4 linked regions of the Homo sapiens genome follow. The protein of the gene in region 4 interacts with the protein of the main gene of each other region in a pairwise test. Each region holds a gene or a part of one and is shown on either strand. Other genes may lie near its edges.

What was found.
Region 1: the proteins of C10orf67 (region 4) and ACSF2 interact in binary tests that used the Homo sapiens proteins (3 or more experiments, as listed by UniProt).
Region 2: the proteins of C10orf67 (region 4) and NOD2 interact in binary tests that used the Homo sapiens proteins (3 or more experiments, as listed by UniProt).
Region 3: the proteins of C10orf67 (region 4) and SYT16 interact in binary tests that used the Homo sapiens proteins (3 or more experiments, as listed by UniProt).

What each region holds. Positions count from the first base shown.
Region 1 is NC_000017.11:50,464,211-50,471,236, reverse strand, and holds part of ACSF2 (medium-chain acyl-CoA ligase ACSF2, mitochondrial isoform 2 precursor), read right to left. Parts: intron 7,020-7,026; coding exon 6,943-7,019; intron 6,742-6,942; exon of another isoform or gene 6,712-6,741; coding exon of another isoform or gene 6,638-6,711; exon of another isoform or gene 5,940-6,637; coding exon of another isoform or gene 5,798-5,939; intron 5,531-5,797; coding exon of another isoform or gene 5,367-5,530; intron 3,198-5,366; coding exon of another isoform or gene 2,424-3,197; exon of another isoform or gene 2,357-2,423; intron 210-2,356; coding exon 102-209; intron 1-101. Other genes in the region: CHAD (chondroadherin precursor), read left to right, coding at 2,424-3,197, 5,367-5,530, 5,798-5,939. UniProt on the Homo sapiens protein: Acyl-CoA synthases catalyze the initial reaction in fatty acid metabolism, by forming a thioester with CoA. Has some preference toward medium-chain substrates. Plays a role in adipocyte differentiation.
Region 2 is NC_000016.10:50,724,585-50,731,610, forward strand, and holds part of NOD2 (nucleotide-binding oligomerization domain-containing protein 2), read left to right. Parts: intron 1-904; coding exon 905-988; intron 989-2,830; exon of another isoform or gene 2,831-3,866; intron 3,867-4,428; exon of another isoform or gene 4,429-4,566; intron 4,567-5,233; coding exon 5,234-5,317; exon of another isoform or gene 5,318-5,369; intron 5,370-7,026. UniProt on the Homo sapiens protein: Pattern recognition receptor (PRR) that detects bacterial peptidoglycan fragments and other danger signals and plays an important role in gastrointestinal immunity.
Region 3 is NC_000014.9:61,990,697-61,997,722, reverse strand, and holds part of SYT16 (synaptotagmin-16), read right to left. Parts: intron 1,848-7,026; 5' UTR 1,704-1,847; coding exon 1,181-1,703; intron 1-1,180. UniProt on the Homo sapiens protein: May be involved in the trafficking and exocytosis of secretory vesicles in non-neuronal tissues. Is Ca(2+)-independent.
Region 4 is NC_000010.11:23,285,776-23,292,801, forward strand, and holds part of C10orf67 (uncharacterized protein C10orf67, mitochondrial), read right to left. Parts: intron 5,505-7,026; coding exon 5,357-5,504; intron 4,822-5,356; exon of another isoform or gene 4,792-4,821; coding exon of another isoform or gene 4,761-4,791; intron 4,184-4,760; coding exon 4,125-4,183; intron 1-4,124.

The sequences.
Region 1 (7,026 bases), on a different chromosome or scaffold from region 4:
AGCCATTTGACTCTCTCACTGAAAGCAACCGATGTCCCAGCTGGGTGCACCCCAGCTGGGTGACGGGAGGTGGGACTTTGGAGTCTTGGTCAGGGGCTCACCTCCGTGTGAGGCATAATTCTGCCCACGCTTTCTGCCTTCTGCTCCACAGTGTCCTCAGGGAAGTGCGCGAATGTCACGGGACTGTTCTCTGTGGTTCCATAAGCAACCTAGAGGGTCCAGAAAGGGTGTTTGAAGAGGGCTCAGCACGTGCAGAGGGATCAGGTGAGCTATCTGAGGAAATGGGAAGGAATTCATAAAAGAAAAGGGAAAGTGGAGGGCAGCCGAATGGTGGAAACAGAGACATCATTGGTAGGGGCCTGGGGTCAGGAGGCAGAGGTGCTGGGAGTGAGCAGACTAGATCTCTGCAGGGCCCCAGATCTGAAAGAAAATTGAGAGCAGGGACACCATTCTCTTCCAGCTGGAGCTCTCTCAGTGCCCCGTTTCCCTGGAGCAGCCACCTGTCTGTGCCTGTGGCTCCGGTATTACCAACACCCCACACTTCTCCCCCCATCCCCTGGCTGCCTTAACCCCACCTTCCTGATTTCAGGCCACATCCCCGGCTCCTCCCTTCCAAGCTGAAGGCCCCATAAACTTGATGAGAAAGCCAGCCTGCCTTGGCCCAGCTAGGAGTGGCACAGACACAACCCCACCCCCGCATTCTGCAAACCCTGAACAAGTGCCTGGCCTTGGGGCAGGCGTCCCCCAAGCTCTGGAGAGTTTCCCGTGAATTTATTTCCATCAAAATAAAAAAACAACCTAAGCAGTGATTTTAAAAACCAGTGGTACCCCCACCCCACCTCCCCCATTTCCAGTGGTTGGAAAGCCTGAGCAACAGAAAAACCAGAAGCCAGCCTTGGAGAAGCCTAAATACCATCAAGGAATGGTCTAGGCCAAGTATGACCCTCCTATCCTAGAGGCAAGGGGCAGAGAGGTTTGGGAAAAGGGCAGGCCCTGGAAACCAGGCCCCAACACGAGGGTACTGGGTAAGGGAAGAGAGGCTAGTTACCCCGTATCCTAGGTCCCCTTTAATCAACGGATACCAGATCTCATCCATCCTCCTCCCTGCACCAAGCTTCCCCCATATCAGCTGCTCTGGCTCTGGCACGGCTGGGGTTTGGTTCAATGTGGGTTCTGGTTTCTCCTTCCACCCCTCATCACAGACAATATCCTGTGCCAGGCAGCTTGGAGCTCACCCTGAGGCCAGAGCTGTGACCCTGCCTGCTCACCCTCCCCTTTCCACAGGAATCCGGACATCGTGGCTGGCAAGTGGGCACACAGAAATCTGGCGGGCTGGGGCGGGACTGCCCACAGAACTTAGGGTCTGGCAGCCAGAGCCGTCCAGGGCTGGTCCCTCGACCTGCCCCACCCCCTCCCGCACCCCTCCTCACAGTCCTGGGGCCACCGCCCGAATGTGGCATCTGCCAAGTACACCTCGGCGCCACTCAGCCGCCACCCTGAGACCCCTCAGGGGCGGGTCCTGACCACTAGGGTTGGGGATGAGGGATGGAGATATTTCGGGGCGATGAAGGAGGGGGGATGGTGCGACTGTGCTTGTGGCCTGTGGTTTCCAGGTGTGTTTGCCATTCCTGTGGGCCACTCTCCCCCACTTCCCACTTCTCTGCTTAGCCTTCAGCGGTGGAAAAAGGGGATGAGGGCGCCGGCGACAGAAACGCAAGCGGGGTTGGAAGAGAGGGGTGGGGGCGCGCCCGAGGGTGGGGAAGGAGCTCGGGTCTACCCAGGGCCAGCTTCGGCGCGTCGAGTCTGAAGTGGGAGACCGACGCCGGGGCGGCTCTCACGCTCGGCAGGCGCCGCACAAGCGCCCCTTTAAAGCGCAGGCAGCTGGCCCACCGCAGGGAGACGCATCCAGCTGTCCGGCCCCGCTTCCTCCCGCCTCGCATCCAGGGCACCCGGCCGAGCGTGTGTGGATGGCGCGGCGTGGAGGCTCAAACCTGAGCAAACAAATAAGTTGAGGGAACGCCTCCCTCTCTCCGATGTAAACTCGGGGCTCCAGACATAACTATTCCCCCTTCCCAGAAAAGCCCCGGGAAAGGCGGTAGGCAGAGGAGCACCATAGGAGAGCGGGGGGCTACAGCCGGGGCTCAGGGCTCGGGGCTCGGGGGCCACGGTCCCACCCCCTCATGCACGGTAGCCGGCTGGGGGAACGGCCCCGCCCCCTTCCCCGTGGAGGGCGGGGGCGCATCTCTGGGCGCGAGCGAGTTAAGCCCAGTGGCCTCGATGCTCCACGTAGGAGCTGGCTCGGCTGCCGGCTGCGGTCAGGGCCACCGTATAAAGAGGGCGGCAGACCCGAGCGCCTAGGACTCGCCGCTGCCCGCGCCCCGCCGCCGCTGCTGCCCCCAGCCCCGGCCCCAGGCGTCCCAGCCATGGTCCGCCCAATGCTCTTGCTCAGCCTCGGCCTCCTGGCTGGTCTGCTGCCGGCGCTGGCCGCCTGCCCCCAGAACTGCCACTGCCACAGCGACCTGCAGCACGTCATCTGCGACAAGGTGGGGCTGCAGAAGATCCCCAAGGTGTCAGAGAAGACCAAGCTGCTCAACCTACAGCGCAACAACTTCCCGGTGCTGGCTGCCAATTCGTTCCGGGCCATGCCGAACCTCGTGTCATTGCACCTGCAGCACTGCCAGATCCGCGAGGTGGCCGCCGGTGCCTTCCGCGGCCTCAAGCAACTTATCTACTTGTACCTGTCCCATAACGACATCCGCGTGCTGCGCGCAGGTGCCTTCGACGACCTGACCGAGCTGACCTACCTCTACCTGGACCACAACAAGGTCACTGAGCTGCCCCGGGGGTTGCTCTCCCCGCTGGTCAACCTCTTCATCTTGCAGCTCAACAACAACAAGATCCGTGAGCTGCGCGCAGGCGCCTTCCAGGGAGCCAAGGACCTGCGCTGGCTCTACCTGTCGGAAAACGCGTTGAGCTCCCTGCAGCCCGGGGCCCTGGACGACGTGGAGAACCTCGCCAAATTCCACGTGGACAGGAACCAGCTGTCCAGCTACCCCTCAGCTGCCCTGAGCAAGCTACGGGTGGTGGAGGAGCTGAAGCTGTCCCACAACCCCCTGAAAAGCATCCCGGACAATGCCTTCCAGTCCTTTGGCAGATACCTGGAGACCCTCTGGCTGGACAACACCAACCTGGAGAAGGTGAGCTCCTGGCTGTGGGCTCTGCCCTGGTTCCTTCTTCCCTTCCTGGAGGCCCCAGGAGCCAGGGCCACAGCTGGCACCATCCCCCGTCCCCAGGTTCCCTGTCCCTCTGGCTATCTCCAAGGTGAGCAGCTCTGCCACCTCCCTTCCTCGCCTTGTCACATCCCTACCCTAATCCCTGTCTGCTGCCAGTCTCGACCACTGCCCTCCTAGGATTCTTACATATAAAAGGAGTGGGACTGCCCTGGCCCCACAAAAGGCCCCCTAGGGCCATCTCCAGTGCTTCCAAACCCCCAACTGTGAGCAGCAGCCACCTCTTCCTGTTGGGCCTTCCACCCCTCCTCTGCTGTTTTTCCCGTCTCCAGTAAACCTACCACCCCATAAAGGAAGGTTTGTTTATTGAGGAGCCTTCCAGAGGAGCTGGGCAGATCAGGCCCACAAAGAGACCCTGTTCCTGGTGGGGGCTGTGCATGTGTGCTAAGGGGGAGTGGGGGACTGGGGAGTGAGGGGAAGCAAATGCCTGAGGAAGACATTCTCCATGCCCCATAGAGGCCCTGGTGGATGGCCCTGCCCAATCCACACAGACACAATTCACTGCATTCTCAAGTCCATTGCAGCTCAGTAGGCGTGGGACCAAGGGCTCCCCCAGGATGCAAGCATCGTGCCCATGGGCTCCGTGAAGGGGCAAAGGCAAGACCACTATTGTCAATCCTTGGCCCAAGACCCCAGGTGTCTCTCCACAGAGAAGACTGGCGTGACTCACTGTCTCCAGACTGCTAACTGCCCTTTGCCCTCCTCCGTCACTAGACCCATCTCCTGTCTGCATCCTCACTCATTCCTTTCTCCCCTGGGGTGCCCAGTGTCTGGCCAGGTGGGGCTACCTTGGATCAGAGCAGAATCCCTTCTCTGGGACTGGAAAAATCACCCTGGTACAGGGGCTTCAGCCAGGAGGTTTGGGTGGGGAACCAACAAGGTAGAGGAGAGTCTGGTTACTGGAGACCTTCATACCTCAATGTGGGCCACAGGAAAGGGTGCGGGTGTGGAGATGTGGGCAGAATCTCACTTGGGCAGCAGCCAACCTTTGTCTGGGTGGAAGGAGCCTGCTCAAGCCTGCCCTTCTTCAGCCCTGCCTCTCCCCAGCTGAAGTTGGAGTCCCCTGTGGCCCACCAGTGCCAGAGTGGTCTTTCAGTGGGCAGCAGAGCAGCGAATTAGGGGCTGGTTTGGGGCAGGGGAGGCCAGACAGGAATTGTGGCGCCTGGGCAAAGGTGTGGGCACCAATAGAACATTTCCTCTGGAGCCGTCCAACCTGGCCAAAGGCTCCACCAAGGTGGCTTCACAAATAGCGTCTGGCTGGCAGTGGGGGAGCAGTGAGGACAGAGCTGAGGGAAGTCCTGGGACCCTGGGACTGTGGGGAGCCTGGGCCCACTGCCCACTCCACCAAGCACAGACCAAGTTCACCGTGTACCAGTTTGGATTGCTGGGGCCAAACTCTGGCAGCCCCACAGTCCCAGTGTTTGTGCAGGGATTGTGGTGCCAGGGGAAGAGGAGCTGGGTGTGGTCCTGTGGCTACTGTTTACCCACTGCTGTGACCCAGGGCAAAGGACTGCGCTTTTTCCGTTTCCCCATTTGCATATTGAAAATAACACCACCTGGCTGGGCGTGGTGGCTCACGCCTGTAATCCCAGCACTTTGGGAGGCTGAGGCGGGTAGATCACGAGGTCAGGAGATCGAGACCATCCTGGCTAACATGGTGAAACTGCGTCTCTACTAAAAAAATACAAAAAAATTAGCCGGGCATGGTGGCGGGCACTTGTAGTCCCAGCTACTCAGGAGGCTGAGGCCGGAGAATGGCGTGAACCCGGGAGGCGGAGCTTGCAGTGAGCTGAGATCGTGCCACTGTGCTCCAGCCTGGGCAACACAGTGAGACTCCATCTCAAAAAAAAAAAAAGGAAAAAAAAAAAAAAAAGAAAATAACACCATCTGTCTCAAAGGGGGTTGTGTAGATTGGATTATCTGAGATCACTTGGTCATACTGCTTTGAAAACTGGGAAACTCCTCAAAGTGCTATGGCTCAGGTTCAGGGAAGGATCCTGCCCCTCTGGCACTCGGGTGCTTACTCATTCACTCATGACCACCTTGCTCCCACCTTGCTCCCACCTTGCTCCCCAGTTCTCAGATGGTGCCTTCCTGGGTGTAACCACGCTGAAACACGTCCATTTGGAGAACAACCGCTTGAACCAGCTACCCTCCAACTTCCCCTTCGACAGCCTGGAGACCCTCGCCCTTACCAATAACCCCTGGAAGTGTACCTGCCAGCTCCGGGGCCTTCGGCGGTAAGAACACTTCCATGTCACTCCCAGAGCCCACCCTCATGTGATAGAGGCACATTAGCCCTGCACTAAGACATGTTGGACATGCATCCTAGATCTGCTACCTAATAAGCATGGGACCCTGGGAGCCTCAGTTTCCCCATTTGTAAAATGAAGATGACAGCTTCAGACTATCCTGTGGCCAAGTCAATCCTGGCCCCATAGTTCACTGCCCTTCCCCCCAGCACTCCCACCTTCTTCCCCAGCCCCAGCAAGTTTCTGTCTCTCCAGGTGGCTGGAAGCCAAGGCCTCCCGCCCAGATGCCACCTGTGCCTCACCTGCCAAGTTCAAGGGCCAGCACATCCGTGACACGGACGCCTTCCGCAGCTGCAAGTTCCCCACCAAGAGGTCCAAGAAAGCTGGCCGCCATTAAACAGGTGGGGGCCAGGTAAACAGGTCCCCTATGTCCCTCTTTGGTGATTCCAGCAAGTGAGCTGGTATCTTCCAGGATACCCCCTGGCCCTGGAGGGTCAGGCAGACCCTCCATTTTTACAGAGAGAGGAGGGGACGACTGGGTCCCCTGTTGAAGGGAGGAAAAGGTCCTGCCCAGGACTTCCACCATTTTCTTCAAGCATCATCTGTGTTGTTGGAGTACTGACATCGATCTTTGCCTCTTTGCAGGTTCTGACCCAGCCAGTCCTGGTGACTGGCCTCTGCCTTCCACCGGAGAGACTACTGACCTTCTCACCTCCACCCATACCTTCTCCCCACAGCCTCTGCTGATGCACAGAGCTGCCTACACCTAGACACGTCCTGGCAGGGGGCCTCGGGCACTCCACTACCAACCCAGCTCCACCCAGCAGTGTCCTGGGGAGAAGGAAGGCTGAGCCTCTCCCCAGCCTTCATGCCTTCCCCACCCTCCAGCTCCTCTTGGAGAAGCTGTTGCTGAGACCCCCCCCCCAAGTCAATCAGAACCACAACAGGTTGGTCATCAGGATGGCCACCCTCCCAGGATCATCCTTCCTCTGTTCCTCTTTCCCTGCCACGTGGAAACAATCATCAGATCCTTGCCCCACCCCTTGCTTCCAGAAAGGGTTTTAAAGCCCATGCCCCAACTCTGCCAGCCCCCACCTGCCAGGACGTTCTAGCAGGACATCGGTGCTTTGCTGTCCATCTTCCCATGCTGCAATTTCTTCCTGAGATTTCTATAAATATAAATGTATGTATGTATTATATTTACTCCCCTGCCACCTATCTCCTTCACCCACCAGGTGCTGATGAGGTCAGACTATCTTTTCTCACATCTGCTTTCTGGAAGGAGGGCTGGCTGAGAGGGTCTCCTTTGAACATCTGGCCTGGACTCATCCCCATGTCTGTCCATCTGCTGTCATCCCAGGCCTGGCCTGCCCACAGCCCGGGCCGCAGTCACCACTCACCACCAGGTCCTTCATATTTATCTTGTTGATGATGGCTCGGATCAACTCTGGAGGTGCAGGGGACCCAGCAATGACACCTGAATC
Region 2 (7,026 bases), on a different chromosome or scaffold from region 4:
TCTTTATATGGATATAGACTGATCAGCTGGTAGACTGTGACTGACTGAAGCCTGGCTGCTGTGATTGGCTAAGACTTAGCTGTTTGTTATAAGGATATGTTGTTAGGTTGCAGTTTGCTACATAGGAACTCAAAGTACAGAGGCAGTCTCAGGCCAAATTTAGTTTAACTATATGTTAAGCTGCAGGTGACAGAATACCTCCATCTATAGAGGTTTAAACAAGGAAAGGGTTTATTTTTTCCTGTATAGGCAGCTGGATGTAGGCAGTGTAGGGTTTGTACAGTGGCTACAAGAGGCCAGGAGGGGTCTCAGCTCTGTCTCATTCTCTTCCTGTTCCATCATTCTTAGCCTGTGACTTCATTCACATGGTTGGTTGTCTCATGATCACAGGATGGCTGCTCCAGGTGCAGCACTACTTCTGTATTCCCGGATTCGATCTATATACCCAGGAAAGCCATCTGGGTTCTCTCCTTTAAAAAGCATTCCTGGAAGCCCCACCTGTCGACTTCCCCTTATGTATCAACCATGTGTATGTCACTTGACCAACCCACTTGTATGTTGTTTGACCAGCCCTGGCTGCAATGGAGAGTGGGAAATACAGTTTTTTCACCAAGTGCATGGCTGTCCAAATGAAATGAGACTTCCATTAATAAGGAAGAAAGGAAAGATGGAGATCAGGAAGCTGGGGGATCAGGGAACTTATTACATTGAGAGCCCTTGGAGTGAATTCTCTTGCAAATATGTCCCTGGAATTGAGAATCCCCACAACGTACTTTATCTGTTCTTTCTTTATCCATGAGTTTGGGTTTTCAGATGTTGGATTTCCTATATGGGGGGCATGTGAGTTCATCATCTTCCATAATCAATGTTGTATCAACTGGATTTTCTCTCTTCTTCTCACCAGCCTGGAGGAGAACCATCTCCAGGATGAAGGTGTATGTTCTCTCGCAGAAGGACTGAAGAAAAATTCAAGTTTGAAAATCCTGAAGTAAGGAACCCATAAGCAGGAAACAGGACAATAATTGCTGGCCTTTGGAAGGGGCATTTCTGAATAAGATCTGGGCCGCTCTCCGCTGGGCTAACTCATGTGAGGTGGCCTGGTAGAACAGCTTGCCTTGGTCTAGGTGGACAAGGATTCCAGTGCAAGTTGTTTATCTGGGAGGTGGTCCCAGTAAATGCTGATAGGAGAGTGGTGAAGTGAGATGGGGAAGTGAAGGTAACCAATAAAGGGGAGTTATCAAGCCAGTTATCAATGAGGGAAATTGGAGCTCAGTACTCTGGGGCACTCCTGGAGCCAGTGCAGAACACACATGGTCACCTACCCAACCAATGGGCAAGAAAGCCATGGCATTTATCCACCAACCCTCTGTCCTTCCTATGTTGATGTGCGCTCATGGGGCACTGATTCTCCAGCACTTCCAGCTCACCCTCACCCAGCTGAACATGCTTCTGGGGTCAGGAGAATGGCCTCAGGCAGAGAGTGGAAGGTCTTCTCTGCAAGCAGTGGCTGGGGAGGTGATGTGATGGGGAGTACTGTGGCCTCCTCCAGTGGCTGACTCAGTGGCTTGGGACTTGTGCCACAAAGAGATGGACAGCTCAGGTGAACATGAACCCACCTAGTGACCATCATGGGTTTGTCAGGGTGCTCTCTGAGGCTGATGCCAAAATTCTTATTTCAAGTAGACCTCAGGAACCCCATCAGATGGCTCCTTTTGCTGGAGGAAAGTGGCATCTGCCTAGGCAAATGTGGTCCTAGGAAAACGCTTGCCTTTAGAGACAGACAGACAGACAGCTGCCTCTGTGAGTGCCAGCTTTGCTGCCAGGCTGCTACCCACTCTGGCGACACTCATTTGTGTTGCTTTCACAAGCTAGGAAGTTTCCAAATATTTGGAGAAAACACTTCCACTAATTATTTGGGTGGAAATGGGCTGGGAAGTTGGGGTGAAGCCCGGATGTGTCTGAGCCAGATGCCAGCTTTGCACTGAGGGTCGGCCTTTGGGAATACCAAGCCCATTATCAACCAGGTGTGGATATGGCAGGTTTGTCTTCCCTCCTTGTCACAGCCTTACTCCACTTGACTCCCATGGATGCCAGGCAATGAGGCTGGGGTTGGTCCCATGCCACCCTGTCATCAGCCTTATTTTTCAGCATCCTAAACTATATCATCCCCCACAAAAATTGAACTTCTGATATATCTTTTATAAAAAAGAGAAATGCCTACATCTTTCTTTTCCAGGCTTAGTTTCTGCCAAGAGTTGGTTGAGAGCCCAGGCTTGCTGGGTGCAGTGGCTCACACCTGTAATCCCAGCACTTTGGGAGGCTGAGGCGGGTGGATCACCTGAAGTGGGGAGTTCCATACCAGCCTGACCAACATGGAGAAACCCCATCTCTACTAAAAATACAAAATTAGCCGGGCGTGGTGGCATACACCTGTAATCCCATCTACTCAGGAAGCTGAGGCAGGAGAATCACTTGAACCTGGGAGGTGGAGGTTGCCATGAGCCAAGATCACACCATTGCACCCTAGACTGGACAAGAGAGAAACTTCCATCTCAAAAAAAAAAAAAAAAAGGATGAGAAAAATAATAATTTAAAAAAAAGAGTCCAGGCTCTGGAACCAGACAGCCTGGGTCTTACCCCTGCTCCACCATTACCAGCCAGTTCTTCTTGGATGAGTGCCTCAGTTGCCTCAAGTGTAAATGGAGATAATGGCTGGACCTTCATTATAGGCCATGAGCATTCACTGAGAGAATGTAGCTAACAAAAGTGAGTTGTAGGTTGGAGCAAAAGTAATTGTGGTTTCAGACCATGAACTTTAAATTATTATAACTAGGCTAAAATACATCTTTATTAATCAAAATAGGAACCATTAAAATCAACACATTTTTGCCAATAAGAAATAAGTTTGTTTATTCCTGTAGCATAAAAATTCATGCTTCGGGATTCAACAAACTCTTGGAAAGCATTTTCTGCATCCTCCTGGTTGTGGAAGCATTTTTCCTGCAGAAAGTTGTCAAGATTCTTGAAGAAATGGTAGTCAGTTGGCTAGAGGTCAGGTAAATATGGCGGATGAGGCAAAACTTCATAGTCCAATTCATTCAACTTTTGAAGCTTTGGTTGTGTGACATGCAGTCGGGTGTTGTCGTGGAGAATTGGACCCTTTCTGTTGACGAATGCCGGCTGCAGGTGTTGCAGTTTTCAGTGCATCTCATTGACTTGCCGAGCATACTTCTCATATGTAATGGTTTCGCAGGGATTCAGAAAGCTGTAGGGGATCAGACTAGCAGCAGACCACCAGTGACCATGACCTTTTTTTTTTGGTGCGAATTTGCCTTTGGGAAGTGCTTTGGAGCTTCTTCTCGGTCCAACCACTGAGCTAGTCATTGCCAGTTGTATAAAATCCACTTTTCATCGCACGTCACAATCAGATCAAGAAATGGTTCGCTGTTGTTGTGTAGAATAAGAGAAGATGACACTTCAAAATGACGATTTTCTTGGTTTTCACTCAGCTCATGAGGCACACACTTATCGAGGTTTTTCACCTTTCCAATTTGCTTCAAATGCTGAATGACCATGGAATGGTCGATGTTGAGTTCTCAAGTAGTTGTAAGAAAATCAGCTTTGATGATTGCTCTCAATTGGTCATTGTCAGCTTCTGATGGCCTGCCAGTACACTCCTCATCTTCAAGGCTCTTATCTCCTTCGCAAAACTTCTTGAACCACCACTGCACTATACGTTAGTTAGCAGTTCCTGGGCCAAATGCATTGCTGATGTTGTGAGTTGTCTCCGCTGCTTTACAACCCATTTTGAATTCAAATAAGAAAATTGCTTGAATTTGCTTTTTGTCTAACATCATTTTCATAGTCTAAAATAAATATAAAATAAACAGAAAGTATTAAGTCATTAGCAAAAAATCATAAAGTGAGAATTGTGCATTAAAATGATGTATAGCATAACCACATTTATTTAAGAATGTATTCCAATATCAAATGGCAAATTTCAACAATGCAAAAACTGCAATTACTTTTGCACCAATCTAATAGAAGTTCAATAAATACTGGCAATTACAATTGGCATTGCCTTAGGGTCAACTTGTAAGACATTCCTGAAATTGTGGGAAAGGGGGAGGACCTGGAGTGGACATTATTGGAAGGCAAAGCTGTAACCAAAAGAGCAACCTGGGAAACACATGACTCCTCTGTTGCTGTCCCTGGCCCTATCCTGTCTCCCCTCCCTGTTGTCAGCTACCTCATATGTTCTCTAATCTCTGTCTCTGTGCCCTCAAAGACCCCCCTGAAAATAGAAATATTACTGCTCATTGGTTATTTTCTATCAATTAAGTACTGTATTAGTCCGTTTTCATGCTGATGATAAAGATATACCCAAGACTGGGCACTTTATGAAAGAAAGAGTTTTATTGAACTTACAGTTCCACGTGGCTGGGGAGGTCTCACAATCATGGCTGAAGGTGAAAGGCACATCTCACATGGCAGCAGACAGGAGAAGAGGGCTTGTTCAGGGAAACTCCCCTTTTTAAAACCATCAGATATCATGAAACTTATTTACTGTAATGAGAACAGGATGGGATTCAATTACCTTCCACTGGGTCGCTCCCACAACACGTGGGAATTCAAGAGATTTGGGTGGGGACACAGCCAAACCATATCAAGTACTGTGCAAGTGTTTTAGGCATGCAGAGAGTGGTGGGTCTTCCCAGCAAGCAGAGTGTGGGGAGGTAATGGGGGACTGGTGGCTGACTTAATGGCCCAGGACCCATGCCACAAGGAGATGGATGGTGGATGTGAATAGGAGCCTGCTTACACCCATCACAATTTAGATTCTTATGCTCGATGGCACGGGTACTCTTTTAGGCCCATTTTACCAATGAGGAGATTGGGACTAATTTGCTCGAGATCAAAAAAGAAGTGGTGTAGGTGGGATTTAAACCCAGGATGTCTAGCACTAAAATGCAGGTACTTAACCACTATCCTAAGGGAGTGGCTACTTAATTTGATAAACTCATCTAGTGAATGGAAGAGAGACGGTTACATTTCACTGATGGTACTGAGCCTTTGTTGATGAGCTCATTGGGAATCTCAGACATGAGCAGGATGTGTCTAAGGGACAGGTGGGCTTCAGTAGACTGGCTAACTCCTGCAGTCTCTTTAACTGGACAGTTTCAAGAGGAAAACCAAGAATCCTTGAAGCTCACCATTGTATCTTCTTTTCCAGGTTGTCCAATAACTGCATCACCTACCTAGGGGCAGAAGCCCTCCTGCAGGCCCTTGAAAGGAATGACACCATCCTGGAAGTCTGGTAAGGCCCCTGGGCAGGCCTGTTTTAGCTCTCCGAACCTCAGTTTTTCTATCTGTAAAATGGGGTGACGGGAGAGAGGAATGGCAGAATTTTGAGGATCCCTTCTGATTCTGACATTCAGTGAGAATGATTCTGCATGTGAAGGATCTGATTCTCTGTCTAAGAAAGAAGTCTTTACCTCTTTAAGTAGGGAGCAATGATTTCATTTTTAAACCTTGACTATTTATTCAGCAACTTCTCTGCTCTATGAGATAGTGTAGGAATGGGGATGTGGTTGAAGAATGAAAAGAAAAGTCAGCTCCCGCCCTCCTAGAAATTGCATCTGCCTTCACAGGTCAAGGATATTGGATCAGACCTTCTGCGGTTCTGAATGGAGATTACACAGGTTAGGAGCAGGTTGCACAGTGTTTCCAATTCTCTATAATTAAAGCCATAGACTTTCATGTATTGAAAAAAGCAAGAATTGCATTCTTGACAGATTCTTTCATTGCCTTAAAAAGAATGACTAGCCTTGGGAGTCTGGGCAGCTGGGTCCAGTGTTGTAGACTTTCTCTCTGCTGAGCCACAGCTTCAAAGATTTGTCCTTCTTGTTTCCAGGGATCTATTTCTCAGACAATAAGTAAAGGCTTTCCCTGGCCTAATGTGCTGTAAGTGAATGCTACTATATATGTTCCAGGCACTGGGCTAGAGACTAATATTTAAAAGCCAGGAAATTTCCTATAGAAAATCTATATCTCAGGGTTTTCTCAAAAGAGCTGGGAACTCTGGATGCCCATTCATGATTCCAGTAGTTAACCAGAGTACAAGAAGGGCTGAGTCTTCTCAGATGGGCAAACCCACTCTGGCTGACTGCAGATCCACCAAGCCTATTGTCTTAGACCAGGACCCTTTGGCAACTCATTCCCATAAGCCTGTGACCCTTGCTTTAAATATGCAGGCCTTGTCTTCTCTCAAAAAGCACATCAAGGCTGCAGCGAATGCAGATATCAAATGATGAAGTTAAAAACAAAAGCTTTGCTGGGCGTGGCAGCTCACACCTGTAATCCTAGCACTTTGGGAGGCTGAGGCAGGAGGATCACTTTAGGCCAGAGGTTCAACACCAGACCTTGTCTCTCAAAAAATAAAAAATTCAGCTGGGTGCGGTGTAGTTCCTAGCCACTTGGGAGGCTGGGATGGAAGGATCCCTTGAACCCAGGAGTTCAAGGCTGCAGTGGGCCATGATTGCATCACTGCACAGGCGACAGAATTAGATCCCATCTCTTAAAAAAATAAAAAATTTAAAAGTGACTTCAAAAATCTATGCTGTGATGGAGAGATTTTTCCTTCTGTATGATTGTGATAGCTCTGTGGCCTATGACGTCATCAGGTTCTGGGCAAAGTGTAGGTTTTCTGTTTCTTTGTTTTTGAAACCATTGCACAGTCCTAAGAAACATCACATTCTGGGTCCTGGGCACCAGCCAACATGAGGTTGATATTTTAAGGGGTCTGATGTTATTTGCTGCCTGTTGATGGAACTTGGGAGGGCACCAGGGTTTGCTCATTGCATTCTTGACAGATTCTCTTATTGCCTTAAAAAGAATCACTGGCCTTGGGGAGTCTGTGGCTGGCTGGGTGCAGTGTTGTGGACTCTCTCTGCAGAGTCATGGAGCCTTGTTCAGAATGCTTCCTGAGCTGCCCTGGTTGGCCAAGGGTAAAAACAGCCCTGACTT
Region 3 (7,026 bases), on a different chromosome or scaffold from region 4:
GCTGGCCCAGATATTTCTAGAATATTTCTATAGCCAATTTAAAAGACTCAAAATTGCAATTAGCTACAGCTTATCAGGTTCAGAAAGAATATCAGCCTACCTCATTTTCACCAATTTATTCTAGCATTTCAATGTTACCTTAATTTGAATAAAAGTATCAAGAGAGCATTATGAGAAGAATATGAAATTGTGTTTCTTTATATGCCAAGACTTCATATATCTGGATAAAACTTTTCCCTAAAAAGACAAAGCTAATAGGAATCATGGAAAATGAATGAAGGGACTATGAGGTATTCCAGAAAAGTCTGCTCTCTCCAGCAAGAGGGACATTGAATAACTTTGTCTTTAGATCACATAAATGACTCACCAATCTGTGTGACTTATATGTGCATTACAACTACACACCATGCACACATACCCAAATCCCTTCTGTGTATATCATTTACCTCTGTCCCTTAACCAGGTGGAATGTCCTTACTTCAAGGTTAGAGTATTAGAGGCATGAGAAATTCATGCTGGAACACACCTCAGCTACTTTTAGAGAGTTAATTACATTTTTATCATATTCAATATACATTTATTGAAGGCCCAATATGTGCTCAGTTCTCACAGCATAAATCTTTATAGGCAGTTTTTATTAAATGTGTCCTTACCATTCAGAGCTAAAAGAAAATCAAGCTATTCTTATTTCAGAGATTTCCTATCCACTGTCATCTCACATCACGTCTCAGTGAAACACTGTGAGAAGTGTTCTTGGAGTGTTATCAACTAAAAATTCTGCGATAAGTACGGCTTTTTGCACAGGATTTCACACTGAATAATATAGTAACATCTAGAAATTCCTAACCTAGAAGAAAAAAAGAACATTTTGCAAGATATTTTTAAAAGCATGACATGTGCACAAGGGGCTTCTCAAACAGAATCCACAGACTCGTTTTTCACCATTTCACTTGCTCAGAACTATTGTTTTGAAATATGGAACTCCCAAACGTGGATCCTCCAAAGCTTTATATATTGAAAATATTCCTAAGGATTATATCTCTCAATCAGAAGCCAGTATGTGGGAAGGTATAAGAGAGAGAAAAATAAAATCCACATGATAACTAAAAACAAGTCAAAATAAAATAAGTAGAAATGCTCTTTGGAGGAACGCAGAGAAAATGATGACTGGCTAGCTTACCTTGCTTTTTTCCATTAACAGTTTCTAAAGTACCAGGGAGCTGGCTGTCAAAGCCATGTTGAAGGCCACTTCTTTGCTTTTCAAGGTGATGCTCTTCCTCCGCAATAGAAGAAAGCACATGTGGTAACTTGCGGTCATCACTGGCCCAATTGGGCCACTGGGACATTGTGGAACATGAGTCCTTTGCATGTTGGCTAAGGCTTGGGCTTGAATTTTGGGCAGAGTCCTGCAAATCACTATTACAACATGAGAAATGATCCACTTCAAGAAACAAGGAATTTGCATCCTCTTGACTCCAATCATTGTCTTGTTCTTCATCTTCAAAGTACGTTTCCTGAATCTGAATATTATCTAAGTCCTGATCTAGTTTGTCACTCAATTTAGAGTCTTGTTTGCTTATGTTAACCAGCGAAGCAGATAACATATCTCCTGCTTGCTGGAGAGCTTCATAAACCCGAGATATCCAGGAAGAGAAAGGCTGGAAGAAGTTCTGAACATCCTGAGACGCCATGGCCAACACCATGGCCAGCTATCTGATGTCTACAGTGTCCAGTTGTTCAGTTCCTTCAGTGCTCTGGATTGAATGTGAACTATAGAATAAGCATGTTGAGAAATTAATTTGGAGGTCTCTTAATGGCTGTGAATATTTCACTCTCAAAACTTCCAGCTGAAACAGAGGAAAGAAATACTTACACCTGTTAAAGTTACAACCTCAGACCCATCACCAGATACCTACAGACGATGTCAAACAGCATTTGGGCACAAAAAGGGATCATCAGGAAAATCTTAAAATAGTTACATAAAAATGACTGTGAAAGTCTAGATGTAGATTATTTCAATGCCTATTCACCTCCATAGCCATGTGGAAAACTTCCATTAGCAGTAATGGGTTCTGTTCACGTGGACTGAGAGAAGTCTATCCCCATAGACCATCCTTAACAGTGTGAAAAGGATAAATGAATCTTCATTAAGATCCAATTGGGCATGACATTTCAAAACGCAAAAAAGGTCAGATGTTTCATCTACAAACCTGCAGATCCCAAAGAGCTGACTAATAAGCATCTCTGCTTTATGACACTAAAGTTTATACTTGCAAAGGAAGTATGTGTCTGGAATTAAAAAGCTTTAAACAAATCTTAAAATAGGATTTTATATTTTTATGCAATCTCTAGAAATCATATCTATTCTTGGGGAGCAATCGCTGAAAAACTGAGGGTGGCAAATGGATTATCTAGCTTACTGAAGACATGTCCCTGGAATCTCATTGCTTTTGTCTATGTTCCAACCTCCCGAAGATAGATAGCTCTCCACAATCTTTCAGACTCCTAAATCACACTTCATCCCACAAGATTTACAGCCTGAAGGAAGCAGCTCCAGGATATCAACAGAACCACAGGACACTATGAAGACCCCAGAGCTAAATATTTATACTTTTACATGTATATGTGCATACAATGTATACATACACATATGTGTGTATATTATGTGTGTATATATCTTATTGCTATTACAGTGTTCATCAACAGCTCAAGATGAACGTTACAAATGACTAGAGGGCCTAACACACTGCTTAAACTTAATTACCCAATATCTTGTATAGCAATAACTTCCTTTTAACTAAATCTACTAGCTATCCCTTAGTCTCTTGACCTCAGCCACTGCATGTGATATGACTACTTACATTCTAAAAATTTTTTATTAGCCATTCATGGATGCATTGACTTATTCAATAAACAAATATTGATTATCTATTAAATGCTGGCACAATGCCAGGGATAAGGTAATCCTGAGGGCTTTGCCTCCATACAGCCCACATTTCAGTTACAGGGGAACTGAGTTCTCCACATTTCCCCCCTATGCTGAATAATTCATGTGTCGCTCTTTCAGGCTCCTCCTTGTCTTCCCACCACCTACATGTATACAACCAAAACTTGTCCTATGGCTTCCCTTCCCTGTTATATTCACCAGCTGCAAGAGTAGGCCCATCCCTACATTTCAATTAACACCTTTTTGAAACTCCAAAATATACATCTCCAGCCTTTGCTCAATTTTTCTTTCCAGGCTTGTATCTGTGGCTGTCAAAGCCAATGATTCTCAAACTCTGGTGTGTCAGAAACACCTAGTGAGCTAATAAAGAACACAAAGGCCCAGGCTGGTTGAAGGAAAAGGGCCTAGTCTGAACCTTGGGATTTTTGGCAAGTACTCCAGGTGAGTCTGACACCCACGGAAGTTTGAGAAATACTGATAGACTTGGATGTCTCACTAAAATCTCAAATTCAGCTCATCCAAACCTAGTGTATCACTTTGCTACAAGCGTTCATCACTCTAGACTCACAACATGGGGGATTGTGAATTTCTCTCTTCAACACTACCTTCTTCCATTCCAAACTCCGTTAGCTTTTGGTCTCCAAAGATTCTCTTTCATCATATTTTGTACAGTTATCTCATTCCCCACACCCTAGTTCCCTCACATACTACATACCTAGTTCGCTTCATATGCTCTTCTTACCCAGACTCAATTCATTCTGTTTGCTCACCATAACCTGATTTTATATGAGGTTTACACCTGTCTCCTGCTCTAGAATGGAGGCTCCCTGGATGGCAGGGATTGTCTGTTTAGTTCTCTATTTTATCCCCATTGCCTAGAAGTGTGCTGAGCACATAGTGAATTCTCAATAACAAATCCTATTAAAAATCATGCAAAAAACAACACCTAGCATATATTATGTACTCAGTAAATTGGTTAAGTTGATGGATAAATTCTATCCAGAACTGTTAAAAAGATGTTAAACAATGTTATCACATAAGTTCCCTGCATAGTAACAACAGTAAAGATCCTTTTGCCATTTGTTACATCCCATTTCGCCACTCAAAGTTTTTCGGGTTTTTTTTTTCTCTGCAAATATTTTGTGTAAGTTACTAAGCTTCAGTGCGTCACAGATTTACAAGGTTCTCTCTGAGATTCCAGTGGCTTTAGCTCCCACGGCCATCTTTTTGGTACCTTAAACTTTTTAAGCCAGAAATGACATGTTTTCCTTAATAATTCTTCCATCATTCTATTACACACAAAAAAACTTTGAGTTTTTTGTTGTTGTTGTTCTGAATTTTTTAATTTTTTTTATTTCAGTTCTGGGATACATGTGCAGACGTGCAGGTTTGTTACATAGGTATACATGTGCCATGGTGATTTGCTGCACCCATCAATCTGGATCTAGGTTTTAAGCCCCACATGCATTAGGTATTTGTCCTAATGCTCTCCCTCCCCTTGCCCCCCACACCCCCACAGGCCCCGGTGTGTGATGTTCCCCTTCCTGTGTCCATGTGTTCTCACTGTTCAACTCCCACTTTTGAGTGAGCATATGTGATGTTTGGTAGAAAACTTTGTTTTCATATGCAACCCAAAATCTCTGAATTTGAGCCAGCATCTTCTTGTCCAAATCTTCAAATTAGTACAGCTCATATTCTTGGCCTCATATCCCCTTGGTTTCTATAATCTCTGTTCATCAAAACGAAAATGAAAAAATTCATTTTTTACAAAAATTGACAGTTCATCAAAATGGCAAATTTTGTAAAAAATGAATTTTGATCATTCTCCTAGTTTTAAAGAAAAAAAGCCATTATGATTCCCTGTTACTTAAACTGCAAAGTTTGAGCACTGGTGCTGTCAAAATCACTACTCATTTATGTTTGTTGATATAGCGTTTTTTAAAAATTAATTTGAATGTTTCCAACTCTATATAATCTTCACCTCTCCCTGTTGTTTACAATCCACTCGCTTCACTCATTTCTATGTAGCCTGCCCGACCCCTGGATGCATTTGAATTTCCAAGCCCCACCCTATAGGATAAAGTTCAAATTCTGTACTGTGGCATACAAGAGGAGAAGTGCTCAAAAAAACAATAATAATAATTATCAGCACCATCCAACTGGGCTTAGTGCTGGGGGGATCCTAAAGGCTTCCTGCAAAGTGTAAACACTTTAATTGCTGTATCACTGGGTCTGAGGAGGTCTAGAGGTACAAAAGGACACTGGAAGGGGCTTCAGATCGGTGGCTATTTATCAACCAGCTTGGAACTAATTTCAGGACAACAGCAACTCACGGAGCTCCCGCCTTTTGTCCTCACTGAATACCTAGCTGTCTGAGCTGTCCGCAATAATGCTGCCGCGCCATGAGAACTCAGCCTTTCCTTACCACTCCTCGCTGTAAAGTCCTATGTGCCAGTCTCACTGACACACTAAGCATTTTCCAAAGTGACTGTGCTCTTTCCTGACTTCTGTTTGTTTTGCCCAGGATGACTTCTCTCCCTAAACTGCCCGATACTCATTTTTTATGAGGAAATGTTTATTGCTTCCTCTGTCAACTCTTCATCTACAATCAAAGGTGTGGCCTCAGAGTGTTTTGAATGTGCCTTTATGATATAACGTTTCCCTCGGTATAATGGATATTTGTCAGTCTTCCTCTTCCAATGGACTGGGAGTCCACAAGTGCTAGGGCTGTGCTTATACTTTGTAGCTCCAGAATCCACACAGGGCAGGGGCTCTCCATGTTCCATGAATGAATGAATGAATGAATGAATGAATGAATGAATGAACGAACAAAGTTATTAGTGAAAACATTTAAAGCTAAGTAAACCTGATTCCTTTCTATTTATTCATCTCTAAAGTGGCATTAACGCACTAGATGACTTTTAACACCCTTTCTGCTCTTAAATCCAAGAATTTGCCATTGTGTGCCACAGAACATTGTAATATTGAGGACGGATACAACCAGAAGCAAGATGCCTTTTCATGGAATAGTTCTGTACTTTTTTGTCAATAACCATTGTGAGATGATCCCAGAATAATTGGAAAGAAGCCAAATCTCAGTCTTTATATAAAAGAGTGTCCAGTTGCTATATTCTAAAATACTCAAAAAGAAATGAAACCTACAGCTAGAATCTGAAAAACTACCTAGTTAGCAACGCCAGAGATCTTTCATTTTATGCTAAATCAGCCTAAAGCCAAAGAGGCCCAGCACTGGCAGGGTAACCATGGAGATATCTTTGGGGCTTAGGTAAATTTCAACTTGATTGGTAGAGCACACCAAGGATAATAATGCCAGATATATACTGTATCCTACTTCTTTGGTGGCTTTCTTACAGCTAACAAGAAGACAAAGTAGCTTCTGGTGTTTTAGAAAACACACACACACACACACACACACACACACACAAATGAAAAACAGAAAAAAAGTCCAGTTCCCTGGATTAGAAGGAAAAATACATTTAAGGTCTTGTCATATCTGAGAAGGCCCATTATTACAATTGAAATGGTTCATGATATCTCATCACTATGGAAGTATAAAATGAGACAACAAAAAAAGATGGTGTGTGTGTATGTGTGTGTGTGTGTTTACCATACAAGCTTCTATCACAAACATGACCTGGGAAGATTTACAAAGTATTGAAGTACTCAGAATAAACTGACAATCTAAGAAAGAATTAGTAGCAATTGATAAAGATTTTAAAAAGCCATAAATAAATATATTCTTAAAGGCTACTTTTTTAAAATCTTGGTTTAATTGGAATTCTATTTTAATTAAGATCATTTTGTACATAGGAAATGACTAAGCAGTAAATATTAAAGAGTTGTGTTTCTGTAGAAAGAAAAACTGTCAAATTCCTGAGCCATATGTTTTATCAAATATTTTGATTGTTCTCACCAAAGCTAACTGTGAACAGAGAAGAGGTATTCCATCCCAGAATAACAATGCTCATAGTCCTTTAAGGGTTGTTAGTTAAATCTTTCCAACCCCATTTTCTATCTGATGGGGTTGCTTGCAGGGTTGGGGGACAGTTACGACCTAA
Region 4 (7,026 bases):
TGAGTTTTTAAATTTGAATTTAAATAATTGGAAATTAAATTATCAAAACTTAGTTCCTCACTTGCACTGGCCACATTTCAAGTGCTCAATAGCCACATGTGGCCAAGGGCCACCATGGCACAGTGCAGATTTAGAAAGCTGAGGCAGCACTTAACTGATATATTTAAACTCACAGATATAGCCAGCCATCAACTGGTGGCTTACCAGTGAGATTTTGTTTTTTTGCTTTAATTTGTTATTGTACTCCTTATAGAGAGTCAGAAGTACATGCTACTCATTTCTACCAGTGGTATACAGACTGAAGAGCTTGAGAAACATTTTCAATAAAGAACCAGGCCCAGTGCAGTGACTCACACCTGTAATCCTAACACTTTGGGAGGACGAGGTGGGAGCATCACTTGAGGCCAGGAGTTTGAGACCAGCCTGGGCAATATAGGGAGACCCTGTTTCTGCAAAAATAAAAAAATAAAAAATTAGCCAAGTGTGGTGGTACTCCTGTTTAGTCCCAGCTACTCTGGGAGCTGAGATGGGAGGATCGCTTGAGGCTGGATGTTTGAGGCTGCAAGTGAGATATTATTGTACCACTGTACTCTAGCCTTAGGGACAGAGTGAGACTGAGACATAGAAGGGAAGGGGAGGGGAGGGGAGGGGAGGGGAGGGAGGGGAGGTGAGGGGAGGGGAAGGGAAGGGAAGGGAAGCAAAGAAGGAAGGGAGGGAAGAAGGAAGGGAGGGAGGGGAGGGAGGGAAGGAAGGGTGGGAAGGGAAGGAAGGGAGGGAAGGGAAGGAAGGGAGGGAAGGGTGGGAAGGAGGGAAGGAGGGAGGGAGGAAGGAAAGGAGGGAGGGAGGGAGGAAAGGAGGGAGGGAGGAAAGGAGGGAGAAAGGAGGGAGGAAAGGAGGGAGGAATGGAAAAACTGGTGATGGTTCCCTGGTTGGTTATTAAGTGAAACTAGAAGGCTGAGATTTCATTTCTGACCTTAGAGGTTGATGCCAAGAAGGTTAAATGGAATTTACATTATTGTCACTGCAAATAGGGTGAAGCCTAAGAAAATGAACTCCCCTTGTGAAAATCTGTGAGGGATTCAGTTATCAGGGAAACATCTCCCACCTCTGACCAATCAGGGTAACCATTTCTTTGAAAAATACTTCTTAAAAGTAGTTTTATCTAAAATCTGAGAATATCTTGAATGAGGAAATAAGAGAGGACACAAACAAATGAAAAAACATTCCATCCTTATGGATAGGAAGAATCAATATCATGAAAATGGCCATATTGCCCAAAGTAATTTATAGATTCAATGCTATTTCCATCAAACTACCATTGACATTCTTCACAGAATTAGTAAAAACTATTTTAAATTTCATATGGAATCAAAGAAGACCCTGTACAGCCAAGACAATCCTAAGCAAAAAGAACAAAGTTGGAGGCATCACACTACCTAACTTCAAACTATACTACAAGGTTACAGTAACCAAAACAGCATGGTACTGGTACCAAAACAGACATATAGACCAATGGAGCAGAACAGAGACCTCAGAAATAACACCACACATCTACAACCATCTGATCTTCAACAAACCTGACAAAAACAAGCAATGGGGAAAGGATCTCCTATCCAGTAAATGGTGCTGGGAAAACTGGCTAGCCATATGCAGAAAACTGAAACTGGACCCTTTCCTTACACCTTATACAAAAATTAACTCAAGATGAATTAAAGACTTAAATGTAAAACCCAAAACCATAAAAACCTAGGAGAAAACCTAGGCAATACCATTCAGGACATAGGTGTGGGCAAACACTTCATGACAAAAACACCAAAAGCAATTGCAACAAAAGCCAAAATTGACGAATGGGATCTGATTAAACTAAAGAGCTTCTGCACAAAAGAAACTATCATCAGAGTGAACAGGCAACCTACAGAATGAGAAAATCTTTGCAATCTACCCATCTGACAAAGGTCTAATATCCAGAATCTACAAGGAACTTAATCAAATTTACAAGAAAAAAACAAACAACCCCATCAAAAAGTGGGCAAAGGATATGAACAGACACTTCTCAAAAGAAGACATTTACGTGGCCAACAAACGTGAAAAAAAGCTCAACATCACTGATCATCAGAGAAATGCAAATCAAAACCACAATGAGATACCATGTCACACCAGTCAGAATGGCGATTATTAAAAAGTCAGGAAACAATAGATGCTGGTGAGGCTGCAGAGAAATAGGAACACTTTTACACGTTAGTGGGAATGCAAATTAGTTCAACCATTGTGGAAGACAGTATGGAGTATTCCTCAAGGATCTAGAACCAGAAATACCATTTGAACCAGCAATCCCATCAATGTGTATATACTCAAAGGAATGTAAATCATTTTACTATAAAGAGACATGCACACATATGTTTACTGCAGCATTATTTACAATAGCAAAGACATGAAACCAACCCAAATGCCCATCAGTGATAGACTGGATAAAGAAAATGTGGTACATATACACCATGGAATACTATGCAGCCATAAAAAGGAATGAGATCATGTCCTTTGCAGGGATATGGATGAAGCTGGAAGCCATCATCCTCAGCAAACTAACACAGGAACAGAAAACCAAACACCGCATGTTCTCACTCATAAGTAGGAGTTGAACATTGAGAATACATGGACACAGATTGGGGAACAACACACACCAGGGCCTGTTGGGGGGCTGGGGGGTGAGCAGAGAGAACTTAGAGGATGGGTCAATAGGTGCAACAAACCACCATGGCACATATATACCTATGTAACAAACCTGCACATTCTGCACATGTATCCCATTTTTTTAGAAGAAATAAAAGACAAAACATTTTTAAAAATTAAAAAAAGAATATCTTGAATGGCAATATCAGGCCTGGCTGAAATCTGAACCTAAACTTAGGCACATGTGGTGGCTAAGCTCTTCAAATGTGGCTAGTGCAACTGTGAAACTGAATTCTTAATTTTGTCTGATTTTAATCCATTTTAACTTAAAAATGGATACTCGGTTCAGTTACTGGAAGATATTTATGTTTATTTGGAATAACTTGGGGATGTGAATCTGCTTGTTTATCTGTAAACTGTATGAACTGTAAATGCATTCCTATTCTATTCATCTCTTGGAGTATTTTTCAGTGCCTCAGGCATCGTGCTCCCCACTAAGAGACCAGATAGCGCAGTTTCCACCCTCATGGAGCCTCCAGTAGGGCAGGGAAGATAGACCATAACAGAATGGTAACTGAGAGCCACAATAGGGAAGTTTGCGGATAAATGAGAACAGAGTAGGGAAGCCCCACGTGTGCAGGGAGAGCAGGAATTGCTGAGATCCTACTGCATTCAATTCAATGAGCTAAGAAATCTTGTTGTTGTGGGGGTTGGTGGTGTGTGTGTATGTGTGTTTCAGACAGGGTCTCACTCTGTTGTCTAGGCTGAAGTGCAGTGGTGCAATTCTAGTTCACTGCAGCCCCGAACTTCTGAGCTTAAACAATCCTCCTACTTCAGCATCCCGAGTAGCTGGGACTACAGATATGTGCCACCACACTCGGCTAATTTTTTTAATTTTTATAAAGAAGGGGTCTCACTATGTTTTCCAGTCTGGCCTTGAACTTCTGAGCTCAGAAGATTCTCCAACCTTGGCCTGCAAAGCTGCTAGGATTACAGGTGTGAACCACTGCGCCCCACCTTGGAAATCTTGATTTTTATTCTACCAAAAGAATTCCCTGCTCTAAATATTTACCAGATAACATAAGCCCAGCTCATTCATGAACATCAACTAACATCTGATCTGAAAATAAGACTGTTCATTTTTAATATAACTTTTTCCTTAACTGCAAGCTCATCTTCAGACTTCTCTGTGTCATGTAACTATTCGGTGCCTTAAAATCAACAAGGCAGATGGTCAGTGATCCCAAACAAAAGAAGTATCTATACATCCGTGAGTTTTCAAGGTGGAGTCCTTATTTGCTTCTAGTCACCCTTCCCAAATAGTGGGGAGAGATTAAATATGTGAATCAACTTTCCTCTATGTCATAAGACACTCTGGACACAGTGTTATTTGGCCAATTGCGCCTATAGTTCCATTTAAAAGAGTCATTTATCAACGTAAAACGTTATAGTACCTTTTGAATAGTTTTGTGATCCTTTTCTGCCATCTCTTTCATACTTATAAGTTCATCTTCTGTAAACAAAAGGAGAGAGAGGCCAACCATGAAATTACATGCTTATGCCCCTGTATTTAAACGGCCTGCTTCAGGGCAGGCTGTGGGGCACTAGCAGGCATAGTGGACACAAGGCCTAGCAGGACTGTGACCTTCACAACTGCCCTTGACATTCGCAGCCTTCTTCCTGCTGTTCAGATGGCCGGTCAGATAGGGATTAAGAAGTAAGTTCAAGATCCAAGTGTGGCTGAGGGCTGAAAGCTTTTCATCAATACTAGCGACGGACATTTTTGCTGTTGGTCACAGCCAATACAAAGAGCTTTAGCAGGTGGCAGTTTATGACTTAATAAGAACGACCCAAAACTAAAAAGCCTTGCTATGCCACAGCAGAAGAGAATGAGACTATACTGGCATGGTAGAATTTTACATCCAAGGGATAATATTAATATAATATATCTCATTTTACTGATATTTTGCTATAATTCATTGTATTGCCTGCTCATTGCTTTGAATACTGCAGATTAAGGACAACATCATGTAATTAACATAATCACTCGGATCACAGTTAAATGAAAAAATACGTTAGAGCAATCTCACCTTGGTGATTATTTTTTTCTCTTTTCCACATGTTCTAACAACTTCGGTGATTTAAACACAACTTTCACCAATGTTTGTGGTATGAAAGAAAAGAGGTATTAAGTATACAAATGAAATTGTGTATTTAAGCTTTGCATCAAAAATTGAAGTAACTAGTAAGTACTAGCATATTTTCCTGAAGGGCTAACTCTGTTTTCCCTACAAAGCATATCCCTATATGTATTCTTAAGTTTTTAAATGTTATCAAGTTTAGATAATCAGTTAAGCATCTGAAACAAATCAGCAAAAGTTTCTATCTGGCTATAATATTTCTAAGTGAAATGGAGCATTGATTAGCAAATTTTTGCAAAGGCCAATGTCTGTCTTGAAACAACACCCTGAATTAACGTGACATGGCTCAGGGGTACAACTACAAACACATCCTCTGTCCCAAGCAAGAAGTGCTATCTTTAATAAAAAGCAAAGATGGCTATGAAATTCATCTTTCAAATGTAAATAACCAAACGAATGTATGTTTGGAAAAGACAAACATAGTTATGAGCTTTACAAAGTGACCAATATACAGATTTTTCTCAAAAGTGATTTCAAAATGTTACCTAATCCTGAATTTTCTTTTAGATTGATCTGGATTTCTTCTTCAAGCTCTGAAATGATCTGAAGCAGCCTCTCATTTTCCACTTTGTACTCCAAATTTTCCTTTTCTAGGTTTGATTTTGGAGAGCTGGTTTCTTTGGCAAAAGATTCCTAAAAGATGGAGAATGCCATATTCCTAAGCAGGGAGCCAAGGATTTAAATATGCAAGACAAGGACAATACAGATACAGAAAAGCTATCATATAATTTTCTGAATTCTATTACACACTTATAAGAATAGTAAAAAGGAAGGAGCCTAAATAGAGCTTGCTGGAAGAAAGGCTCCAGTACATTCTGTACAAAGACCTCAACACATGGGGACATTTTATTGACAGGAATAATGCATATCATACTGTTTGTGTGCCCTCATCATTCAGGTCAATTCATTATGGAGGCTGTGTCCGGGGAGGCAGCTGGGGCCCCTCCACCCACACTTCCCTCTGTGTGTGTCTGAAGTGCTGTCCGCCTGTAACTAGGCAGGCTGGGGGGACCAGGACGGGCAGCGCCAGGGGGTGGCAGAGTGCATGGCTAAGGAGGGGGGCTTGTTGCCTTTGTGGCATTTCCCAGTGTCAGTGCTGCCAGTGTCATGAGGAGCACATCACATGTCAAAGTGGTGACGTTTTCAGGCTGGGAGCCGCATGGAGTCCATCAGGCACACGGATATCCACACAGTTGGTTTTCTGCTTGGTGGAGGAGCCACCCAGAGGCAATTCATATTCTGAACATTAACATGGCTTTGCATGCTTGTCACACGGGGTCTGTGCAGGCGTTTAATGCTATTGAAGACTTTGGTTTAAATCTCTATGCAAACAGTGATTACCTTGTAAGAAGGTTTCAGGATAACTTACAACAAAAGACTTTAAAGTTATAGTTTTAGTAAAGCAAACTCATTTACATTTTTATTATGTGCGTCTTTTGTTTAAATCTTGCCATGTCCATTATGGGAGAGCTTTTTCTTACGCAATAGACGCGCTTATTGGGACAGCTACTCTTTTTTTTTTTTTTTTTTTTGCCTTCTTCTTCTTGTCTGTTTCAAAGCTATTGAAAACATCTGAATATCCTCCCTTATGGCTGTCTAGATTTTATTGCCATGCATTAAAAAAAAAAAAATTAAGCTCTAATGGATTGGGGAAGCTGGTGCAGAACTTTATACTTTATTGTGGTATGATATTAAACAGATTATGCAATCTCAAAATATTATTATGCCAAAGGAGATAGAAGATTCTACATGCCTTGTTCAAAATTACTATAGACATTAAAAATACTTTTGATCTTAAGGTCATCACAGGTGAATTATAACTTATTCTTTTTACAGTAATTCCATGATGGCAATAACTAAAAATAAAATCTTCCCTCAAAAACAAAATAATTTCTCTCGACTGATTTCCCTTTGGAACTACACTTTCATTTAAGGTTAAGGATATGTGGAAGTAAACTATTAAAATATTTTCCCCTGTAACAGTTTTAAAGAAAAAGAAGTGATTTAAATTTTTTGTAGTACATTAATAAGTCCTTTAAAACAAGTGACTTACTAATGAAATTACGTATGGTATATATATGTGTGTGTGTGTGTGTGTAAGAGTTAGTAATATTTAAAATATGTTCTTAAATTTTGCACTAAGCTCAATTACAAA